Linked DNA regions of Homo sapiens. The protein of the gene in region 1 purifies or fractionates together with the protein of each later gene. This does not show direct contact. Each region holds a gene or a part of one and is shown on either strand. Other genes may lie near its edges. The genes, in order: RNF135, GTF2H2 and XRCC4.

The links.
Region 2: the proteins of RNF135 (region 1) and GTF2H2 purify together in Homo sapiens (affinity purification with mass spectrometry; 2 studies listed by BioGRID and IntAct, with this or other methods). This does not show direct contact.
Region 3: the proteins of RNF135 (region 1) and XRCC4 purify together in Homo sapiens (affinity purification with mass spectrometry; 2 studies listed by BioGRID and IntAct, with this or other methods). This does not show direct contact.

The regions. Positions count from the first base shown.
Region 1 is NC_000017.11:30,980,888-30,984,644, reverse strand, and holds part of RNF135 (E3 ubiquitin-protein ligase RNF135), read right to left. Parts: intron 29-3,757; coding exon 1-28.
Region 2 is NC_000005.10:71,054,050-71,057,806, forward strand, and holds part of GTF2H2 (general transcription factor IIH subunit 2), read right to left. Parts: intron 1,409-3,757; coding exon 1,303-1,408; intron 1-1,302. UniProt on the Homo sapiens protein: Component of the general transcription and DNA repair factor IIH (TFIIH) core complex, which is involved in general and transcription-coupled nucleotide excision repair (NER) of damaged DNA and, when complexed to CAK, in RNA transcription by RNA polymerase II.
Region 3 is NC_000005.10:83,080,511-83,084,267, reverse strand, and holds part of XRCC4 (DNA repair protein XRCC4), read right to left. Parts: intron 1-3,757.

The DNA.
Region 1 (3,757 bases):
CTTCTGTGATGCTCTTCTCTACTGCCACCTTCAAAATAGCAAAGTTCAGGTCCTGGGTTCTATAAAACTGGACCCAGGAACCACCACTAGACAGAGGGAATCATAAATACTGTGGTAATGGCATAAAAACAGACATACAGACCGATGGAATACAATAGAGTACCCAGAAATAAACTCTCACATATATAGTTAAATGATTTTTGACGAAGGTGCCAAGACCATTCAATGGAGAAAGGACAGTTTTTTCAACAAATTGTACTGTGAAAACTGGATATCTATATGCAAAAGAATATGGCTGGACCCTTACCTAACATCATATACAAAAACTAACTCAAAATGGATCAAAGACCTAAATGTAAGACCTAAAATAATACAGCTGTTAGAAGAAAACATAGGGCAAAATTTATGACATTGGATTTGGCAATGATTTATTGTATATGTCACTAAAAGCACAGGCAACAAAAGAAAAAAGGAGACAAATTGGACTACATGAAATGTTTAAACATTTGTGCATCAAAAGACACGAACAATAGAGTAAAAAGGCAATCCACAAAAATGGAAGAAAATATTTGCAAGTCATACATCTGATAAGGCATTAATACTGAGAATATACAGAGAATTTCTAAAACTCAACAATAAAAACATATCACTGCCGCTTGTTTGGTTGGTAAAACAAACAAGCAAAAACCCACAAACAACTGAATTTTGAAATGGGCAAAGAACTTGAATAGCTATTTCTCCAAAGAAGATATACAAATCACCAATAAGCACATGAATAGACACTCAAGATCACTAATCACTAGGGAAATGCAAATCAAAACATACAGTGAGATACCACCTCACACTCATTAGGTTGGCTACTATCAAAAAAAAAAAAACCAAAATAACAAATGTTGATGGTGTGGGAAGATTGGAACCCTCTGCACTGTTGGTGGGAATGATATAGCCACTATGGAAGACAGAATGGTGGCTGCTCAAAATATTAAAAATAGGCCAGGCGCAATAGCTCATGGCTGTAATCCCAGCACTTTGGGAGGCCGAGGCGGGTGGATCACCTGAGGTCAAGAGTTCGAGATCATCCTGGCCAACCTGGTGAAACCCCATCTCTACTAAAAATACAAAAATTCACCAGGTGTGGTTGCAGGCACCTATAATCCCAGCTACTTGGGAGGCTGAAGCAAGAAAATCTCTTGAACCCAGGAGATGGAGGTTGCAGTGAGCCAAGATCATGCCACTGCATTCAAGCCTGGGCGACAGGGCCAGACTCCATCTCAAAAAAAAAAAAAAAAAATATATATATATATATATATATATATATATATATGTACATATATGTAATTAGAATTACCATATGATTTAGCAATTCCACTTCCGGATATATAAGAATTGAAAACAGGATCTCAAAGAGATTCATAAACTCATGCCCATAGCAGTATTATTCCCACTAGCTAAAACATGGAAGCAACCCAAGTATCTGCAGACAAATGAATGAATAAGCAAAAAGTGGCATATACATACAATAGAATACTACTCAGCCTTAAAAAGGAAGGGAACTCTGACACATGCTACAACATAAATAACCCTTGAAGACATTATGCTAAGTGAAATAAGCCAGTCACAAAAAGACAGATACTGTATGATTCAACTTATATGAGGTATTTAGAGTAGTCAAAATCAGAGACAGAAATTAGAATGATGGTTGCCAGAGGCTGGGGGAAGAGGAAATGGAGAATTTTAATGTCCTCCTAGAATTCCACTTTTGCGAGTTGAAAAGAGTTATGGTACCCTGAAGAACCAGTCATGTTAATTTAAAATTTTTTAAAGTTATGGAAATGATGGTAGTGATGGTTTCAAAACATTGTGAATGTATTTCATATCACCAAACTGTATACTTAAAAATGGTTTAGGGCCAGAGAGAAGTGGGGGAAAGCCAGAAGACTTAAGGGTGGAGAGGGCAGAGCAAGATAGCCAAATAGAAGGCTCCATTGATCATCCCTCCCACAAGAACACCAAATTTAACAACTACACAAAAAAGCACCTTCATAAGAACCAAAAATCAGGGGTACTTACAGTACCTGGTTTTAACTTTATATTACTGAAACAGGCACTGAAGAGGGTAGGAGAAACAGTCTTGAATTGCCAATGCAACCCATATCCCATGTGTCAGGGGCCACATGCACAGAGAATCTGTGCACTCAGGAAAGGGAGAGCATGGTGATAAAGAGAATAGAAAGACTTTGCCTTGTCGCTTCACAAAGCAAAACTGGGCTGAATTCAGCTGACGCCTACCCACAGAGGGAGCATTTAGATCAGTCCTAGCCAGAGAGGAATCAAATCACCCACCCCAGTTATTGGAACCTGAGTTCTGGCAAGCCTCTCCACTGTGGGCTGAAGTGCTCTGGGGCTCTAAATAAACTTGAAAGGCAGTCTAGGCCACAAGGACTGCAACTCCTAGGCAAGTCCTAGTGCTGAGATGGGTCTCTGGACCGGCCCCGAGCCTGGGTGAATGTGCCACCATGAAGGGAAGGACACAAGCCTGGCTGGCTTTGCCATCTGCTGATTATAGAGCCCTAGGTCCTTGAGTCAATATAGGTGGTAGCCAGATAGTGGTTAACAAGGGGCTTGGGTAAGGCACAGTGCTGTGTTGGCTTTAGGTCTGACCCTGTGCAGTTCTAGTGGTCATGGCCACAAGGTGCTTCTGTCACCCCACCTCCAGCTCCAGGCAGCTCAGCACACAGACAGACTGTTTTGGAGAACGTATGAGAAGAGAACAAGAATCTCTGCCTGGTAATCCAGATAATTCTTCTGGATCTTATACAAGACCACCAAGGTGGTACCTCTAGTAGTCTGCAAGAGTCACAGCTTTACTGGGCTTGGGGTGCCCCCTAATGCAGATACGGCTTAGATCACAACGCCCAAGTCCTTTCAAATTCCTGGAAAGCCTTCCCAAGAAGGACAGGTACAAACAAGCCCAGACTGTGAAGACTACAATAAATAACTAACTCTTCAATGCCCAGGCACTGACAAACATCCACGAGCATCAAGACCATTCAGGAAAACATGACCCCACCAAACTAACTAAATAAGTCACCAAGAGCCAATTCAGGAGAAACAGAAATATGTGACCTTTCAGACAGAGAATTCAAAATAGCTGATTTAAGAAAACTCGGAGACATTCAAGATAACAGAGAAGGAATTCAGAATTCTATCAGGTAAATTTAACAAAATGATTGAAATAATTAAAAATCGGTTAAGAGTCATCACCACGCTCTCCCTCTCCCTCTCCCTCTCCCTCCACGGTCTCCCTCTGATGCTGAGCCAAAGCTGGACGGTACTGCTGCCATCTCGGCTCACTGCAACCTCCCTGCCTGATTCTCCTGCCTCAGCCTGTCGAGTGCCTGCGATTGCAGGCGCGCGCCGCCACGCCTGACTGGTTTTCGTTTTTTTTTGGTGGAGACGGGGTTTCGCTGTGTTGGCCGGGCTGGTCTCCAGCTCCTAACCGCGAGTGATCCGCCAGCCTCGGCCTCCCGAGGTGCCGGGATTGCAGATGGAGTCTCGTTCACTCAGTGCTCAATGGTGCCCAGGCTGGAGTGCAGTGGCGTGATCTCGGCTCGCTACAACCACCTCCCAGCCGCCTGCCTTGGCCTCCCAAAGAGCCGAGATTGCAGCCTCTGCCCGGCCGCCACCCCGTCTGGGAAGTGAGGAGCTTCTCTGCTTGGCCACCCATCGTCTGGGATATGAGGAGCCCCTCTGCCTG
Region 2 (3,757 bases), on another chromosome or scaffold:
AAGAGTAACTAAAACTGGAAAGTGAAACTGCAGATAAGGGGGGATTACTATAATTTAACCTCACAGTAATTCAGAGTCATAATAATCATGAACATTAATATTGCATACCATTTAATTAAAATGATAGCTTGTAGATTTTTAAGTTGTGGTGACCAGTTTTCACCTACACTAAATAGACCTTTTTATGCTTTCTGCAGCAATTTTATCAGTTAGTTATAGCTTTCCTGCTTATATTTTCATTGTTATCTTCTCAGCTCTCACTGGTAGACCCTGCTACTGTACTTACCTCTATTACATGTGTTGCCTCCTTCTCATCCACTTCAAAACTAGAAAAATATCTATTATATAAAGGTATAAGTCTGAGCCAGGGCGGACTATCCAGAGATAAAATATATAAGCTTTAGGGAGGCTGAGGTGGGCGGATCGCTTGAGGCCAGGAGTTCAAGACCAGCCTGGCTAACATGGTGAAACCCCATCTGTACTAAAAATACAAAAATTGGCTGGGCATGGTGGCACACACCTGTAATCCCAGCACTAGGGAGGCTGAGGCACAAGAATCACTTGAACCCAGAGGTGGAGGTTGTAGTGAGCTGAGATCACGCCACTGCATGCCAGCCTGGGTGACAGAGCAAGACTCTGTCTCGAAAAAAAATATATATATACGTGTGTGTGTGTGTGTGTGTGTGTGTGTGTGTGTGTGTGTATATATATAATAGATATATAAGCTTTAACTTATATATGTAAGTTTAACATATATATAAGCTTTATATATATATGTATAATAAATTATATATATAATATGTATATAAAGCTTATATATATATATAAGCTTTAACTATACCAAGTATTTCCTTTGGGGTCTTAGCTCTATTCCATATAGCTGAACTTGCCATATCTATTAATTTACAGATATATGACATTGGTGCAAAAGGAACTGTGGTTTTGGCCATTACTTTCAAAATAAATTAATAAATGTTAATAAAGGTACAACCAACTTACAATTATTATACTATATTAAATCTCATTTTAATAAAATATTTTTTCATCAACATATTTTTGTACTATTGATACTGCCGACAGTTTTAAATTATATTTTTATAAAACCTTTAACAATATCTTACTAAAATGTAAAATAAAGATTACTAACCAACACCACACTAAACATCATAAATAACACTACATAATTCTTGTACTTAACAATTTTGTTATAGCTGGGTTTATGGGCCCCATATTAACACATCACTTCAGCTTAACTCATTTAAAAAACTTCTAATTCAATTATACATAATGTATAATACTAACTTTAGAGTCTGCATAGCTATGCTTAGGGAATTATAAAGAGATGGCTCTCCATGGCAGGTCATATCCACAGCTTTCTTCAAAGACGTTATATGTTTTCTTGGGTTTCCTAAAATAGAAATAAGATCTTTAAATAAAATCCTATATATTAAAAAAGTTTATGTTTCTCTCAAAATTTACATATCTATGATGTTAAAGAACAGAATCCTTTCAATGTATATTTCTGTTGGAATTTTATCTGCAATATTTTGTAAACACTCTCACTTCATACTGAAAAACAGAATACAAATAATCTCCTTATAGACTAGCATACATATTTTAAAATAATGCTAACCTAGAGTGCATTTTTTTACTCTTAATATTTCCATATTTCATCATTTTTAAGACCAATACATTTTCACATTTAACATCTCTGAAATCAGCATGTGTTTAATAATCACTGGTAGCCAGCAGCACTTGTAACATAGTCTTTGCCTGTTCATATGTGAACCTACAAATAGGTCTTCATATGTTGTTGCTTCAATTGCATTATGTACATTGTCCTCTTCATGGTGAGTTTAACTGCCATTTAAAATGTTTTTAAGGCCAGGCGCGGTGGCTCACGCCTGTAATCCCAGCACTCTGGGAGACCACGGCAGGCAGATAACCTGAGGTCAGGAGTTTAAGACACACCTGGTCAACATGGTGTAAATCCCATCTGTAGTAAAAATGCAAAAATTAGCTGGGTATGGTGGCATACACCTGTAATCCCAGCCACTAGGGAGGCTGAGGCACAAGAATCACTTAAACCCAGAAGGTGGAGGTTGCAGTGAGCTGAGATTGCACCACTGCACTCCAGCCTGGGCAACAACAGCGAAACTCCATCTCAAAAAACAAACAATAAAATGTTTTTAGAAATGTTGTTAATACAAAAGGCTATATTTTTATGTAGAAAGGTGTGGAACACAGCAGTGAGGCATAAATTTATTATAATGAATCAAATATTGATGGAAGAATGCATGCAATTCCGTATTTTTCTTGAGGGAAGAAATCAAGAACTTTACAAGACCTAAGAAACGAATATTCCCACAAACAGACGAAGCTGTGTTATCTTACCAAATAGCATCTGAAAAGATTGTCTATCTTATGCTAAGCAATTCAAATGAAGGGGGGAGAAGCTGCCAAATCCTTTTTTTTCTTTTTAATATAATATTTTTTTATATTATTTATATTTAGATTATATATATATCTGTTGCCAGGCTGGAGTGCAATGGGGCAATTTTGGCTCAATGCAACTTCCACCTCCCAGGCTCAAACCATCCTCCCACCTCAACCTCCCAAGTAGCTGGGACTACAAGTGCCCAGCACCACACTTGGCTAAATTTTTTTGTATATTTTTGGTAGAGACAGGGTTTCACCATGTTGTCCAGGCTAGTCCTGAACTCCTGGATTCAAGCAATCCTCCCGCCTCAGCCTCTCAAAGTGCTGGGAGTACAGGTGTAAGTCACCACGCCTGGCCCCCAAATTTGAGATGTCTGTACATGTCAAATTACCAAGAAGCTAGTATAGCCAACTCATATATCATTTGATACTGTGTCAAAGTTTAACTACTAGGACTTTTCCTTCTTAATGGCTTATAAAAGTATCTTGTAATTGATGGAATCTGAGTTTCAATGAAATATAGTATTCCGTAAACATTTTCCATTTCAGCACTGTCTTCGTATCAATCAATAACCTAAGTATCATTAAATTGATTTTGTCATAAAATATAATCCATCAAAGCATACTATTAAACATTTAATTTTTAATCTGTCACTATTATACATAATGTTACAAAGAGTATCTTTGTAGAGTGATCATTCTCCTTCCATAACATTCCCTAAATATAATTTCAGGAACAATTTTTATGCTTTTCTAAAAAATATTGAACTAATTTGTAAGACTATCAGCACTATAAATAACAGTTTCTCTGTGGTTCCACAAGCAACATATTGCTTTGGAAACTTAATTTTGCTCATTTAAAATATATTAAAAAATAAAATGTTATGTAATTGGGTGGAGTTTTTTTGGATTACTAGTTTCCCTGATTTAATTTCTGGGTTTCTTCTGTGTGAATCATGTCTTCTTTGTCTATTCATCAACTTGGAGCTCCCTTGAGTTTTTACTCATCTGAGTAAGTTTTAAAATATTAACCATTTGTAATATTTAATATTTACTGCAAGTATTTTAGATTCATAAATTTTAGAGATGAAAAGTACCTCGCTAAGCAGTCCAAATCCCTCACTTCATAAGTGAGAAAATTAATCTAAACAAGTGAAATGACTTGCCCAAAGACATATGCCTGCTTAACTGCAGGACCAGCAGCACCCAAACCTAGATCTCCTGGCTCTCTATCCACTTCTCTTCCTACCCTACAAAATTATTTTTAATCTCCCACTGTGTTATGGGTATAGGAAAAAAGCATACTACAATAGTGTCA
Region 3 (3,757 bases), on another chromosome or scaffold:
TACTTGTATCAAAAGGATACAGTACCTTTCAATTATTTTAAAGACAGCCATCTTTTTCCTAAGAAACAAGGTATAGCAAATAAGCCATTGATTTTACACTCAAAAGACCCAGGTTGGAATCAAAACTATGCTTCATAGCTGAGTGTCCTTGATCATGCCATTAATGCATTAAAACATTCACTGATTACTTCCTATGTACCAGGATTTGATATCCCAAAGATCAGTAAGACACATTCGCAACTCTCTACTGAAATAGAGACACCCAAACAGAATTATAATATAAGTTTGTAAAATGCAGAGGTAGGAAGGGAGCTCCTCTGAAAAGCAGCACTTACCCTGGCCTGACATTTTAGGGAAGGCTTCCTTGAGTTACATCTAATATTATACGAATCTTTAAAGAGAAATGGTCAGGTGAAAACAACTTAGGGGTAGAGGAAGAAAGATAAGGAAGGGCATTCCAAATAGAAGAGTCTGCATGAGTAAAAACTTGGAGGCAAGAAATAGCATGATACATGGAAGTGATAAATAATTCAGTGTTTCAGACTGCAAATCAAAAATTACAGGTTCATGGTCAAATGCGGTGGCTCATGCCTGTAATCCCAGCACCTTCATGCCTGTAATCCCAGCACTTTGGGAGGCTGAGGCGGGTGGATCACGAGGTCAGGAGTTCGAGACCAGTCTGGCCAACATGGTGAAACCCCGTCTGTACTAAAAATACAAAAAATTTGCTGGGCATGGTGGCATGCACCTGTAATCCCAGCTACTCAGGAGGCTGAGAAGAGAGAATTGCTGGAACCCAGGAGGCAGAGGTTGTAGTGAGTAGAGATTGTGCCACTGCACTCCAGCCTGGGAAACGGAGCAAGACTCCATCTCAAAAAAAAAAAAAAAAAAATTACAGATTCAAACACCCAATCAAGTCAGTCATTCATTCAAACAAAACCTACTGAGTACTTCTATGCCTCAGACAAATGCTTTAGAATGTGGCATAAGACAACAAAACAGATAAAAATGCCTGCCTTCATGGATTTTACATTTTAATAGGGGAACACAATTAAAAATACATGTAACAAATATGTAATACATATATAGAATAATGATAAGCGCTGAAGTAAAAAGAGGAGATAAAACAGGGTGGAGGAGATAGGGGTAGGGGCTATGGAAGTTGCAAAGCTTCAATTTAAATAGGGAGGTTGGGATATGCTTTACTGCAAAGGTGACATTTGAACAACATGTAAAAGCTATGAAGGAATAGCTGTATGGATCCAAAAGCATTCTAGAAAGAAGCAGCAGTCAGTGCAAAGGCCCTGTGGTAGAAGTAGGCCTAGTGTACTTAAGAAACAGGGTGGTAAGTATGGCTGGAACAAAGGGAGAGAGAATACAAAGACATGTAGTCAGAGAGGTAATGGGAGACCAGATCATGTAGAGCAGAGGTGTCCAATCTTTTGACTTCCTTAGGCCACACTGGAGGAAGAATTGTCTTGGGCCACACATAAAATACACTAACACTAATGATACCTAAAGGGCTCAAAAAAAAAAAAATCTCATAATGTTTTAAGAAAGTTTACAAATTTGTGGTGGGCCGCATTCAAAGCCATCATAGGCCACAGGCAGCCTGTGAGCTGTAAGTTGGACAAGACTGATGTAGACTATTGTAGGCCAACGTAAGGCTGTTAGCTTCTACTATGAATCAAATGATTCACGAAAGGTTTTTAAGCAAAAAAGTAATGTTTTATTCTTCTGTATATTATTTTGAAATAATTCTGAATTTACAGAAGGGTTACAAAGATAATAGAAAGTTCTCATATACCCCTCACCCAATTTCTTCTAATATTAACATCTTATACTACCACGGTGCATTTATCAAAACCAGGAAACCAACACTGATACATTTCTATCAACTAAACCATAGACTTTATTTGGATTTCACCAGTTTTTCCATTAATAACCTCTTTCTGTTTCAGGATCCAATCTAGCATAACATATTGCATTTAGAATCTTACATGTAAATACACAATTTTTTATTTATATTTTAAAAGTATCACTCTGGCTGACATATGAGAATAGACTGTAGGGAGGCAAGGACTGAAAAAAGCAGAGAGAACAGAACACAATTACTATAATCCAGGCAAGAAATGATAGTGGGTAATAACAAAAATCTGAGCAAGAGATGATCAGTATACTAATAGCAGAAATAGTAGAAAACTGTTGAATTCTAGATATATTTCATAGAAAAAGCCAACAGATTTGTTGGAATACAAGAGAAAGGAAGGAGTCAAGGATGACTCCAAAGATTTAACTGAGCAACTGGCTGTATAAAGTTGCCATCAATTCAGATGAGAAAGAATGGGAAAGGTTTGGGAGGAAAGGAGTTCGGTCTGGGACATCTGAGTTCAAGATATCTTTTAAATATACCAATGAAGATGCAGAGGTAGAAAAAGAGGAATTGGAACATGGAGCATAGAAAACTCTTTAGAGGATTTTTGTTGCAGAGAAGAGCAAACAAATGGGGTTGAAAATGGAGAAAGGTTAAGAGAAACATTTCTTAAGGTAAAAGAAATAAGACATACATTAAATAGAAGTGTCTTTTTTGGTGAAACTTCTTTTTTTAAAAAATGTTAATGTGTATATTTGAGGTTTACAAGTTGACATTATAGGATACACACAGATAGTAAAATGGTTATTTTAGTCAAGGAGATTAACACCTATCATCTATCTTATTTTTTGTGTGTGACAAGGGCAGCTGAAACTCTACTTATTTAACAAAAATCCCTAACAGAATAAAACTGTATTAACTTTGGTCCTCAAGTACATTTCAGTCTGAATTGAAAAGCCATGTGGGAAGGGAATAAAAACAAGGGGGGAGAAAAAAAGGACAAACACTGGAACATGAAAAACCTCTACCTGAGGTTAGGGAGGCTAGCTGAGGATAAGAGGAAAAAAGCAGAACAATTGTCTTTCAATATATGTGAATAACAGTGAATGAAAAAAGGTAGGTAATGTAAAAGGTAATGTAAATCAACCCTATCATTAACACTAGCAACAAAGTAAAAAGAGAAAATGGGGAGAAAGTGGTCTGGTGATACAAATGCAATACCAACTTAATACTAAAACCTTTTATAGCAGTCCTCTCCTTATCCAAGGGTGTATATCCCAAGGCCCCGTGAGGAGGCTGAATCCAACTGCCTTCAATCTGAGCATGCTTCTGTTCACATTTTCTAACCACAAATTTAATTCCTTTTTTATCTTAACTAAGCTTTTATAATGCACTATGGCTATAAGTTTGGCAGTTTGAGGTGTGACAGTAAAACTAGCATAAATTTCTTTTTGCTTATTCACAATTTTACAGATAGATTTGTTCTTACCATAGTTCTTAACAACATCAACATAGGATTTCTTTTCTTCCTTATTAAGTGGAGAACTTTCCTTTTTTTGCTTAAAAGAGGCACTTTACAGCTACTCTTTGGCATAACCAAATTGCCAGCGTCGTTACTCTTGTGCTTTGAAGCAATAATTAAGTAAAATAAGTATTCCTAGAACACACGCACTGTGATACCACCTCCATCAATCTGATAACCAAGCAACTAAAAGGCAGGAAGCTTATACAGCAGGGATACGCTAAACAAGGAGATGATTCATGGCCCCGGGCTGAATGGGATAGGATGGAATAAGATTTCATCACAACTCAGAAAGGCATGCTATTTAAAATGTATGCATTATTTCTGGAATTTTTTTTTTTTTTTTTGAGATGGAGTCTCGC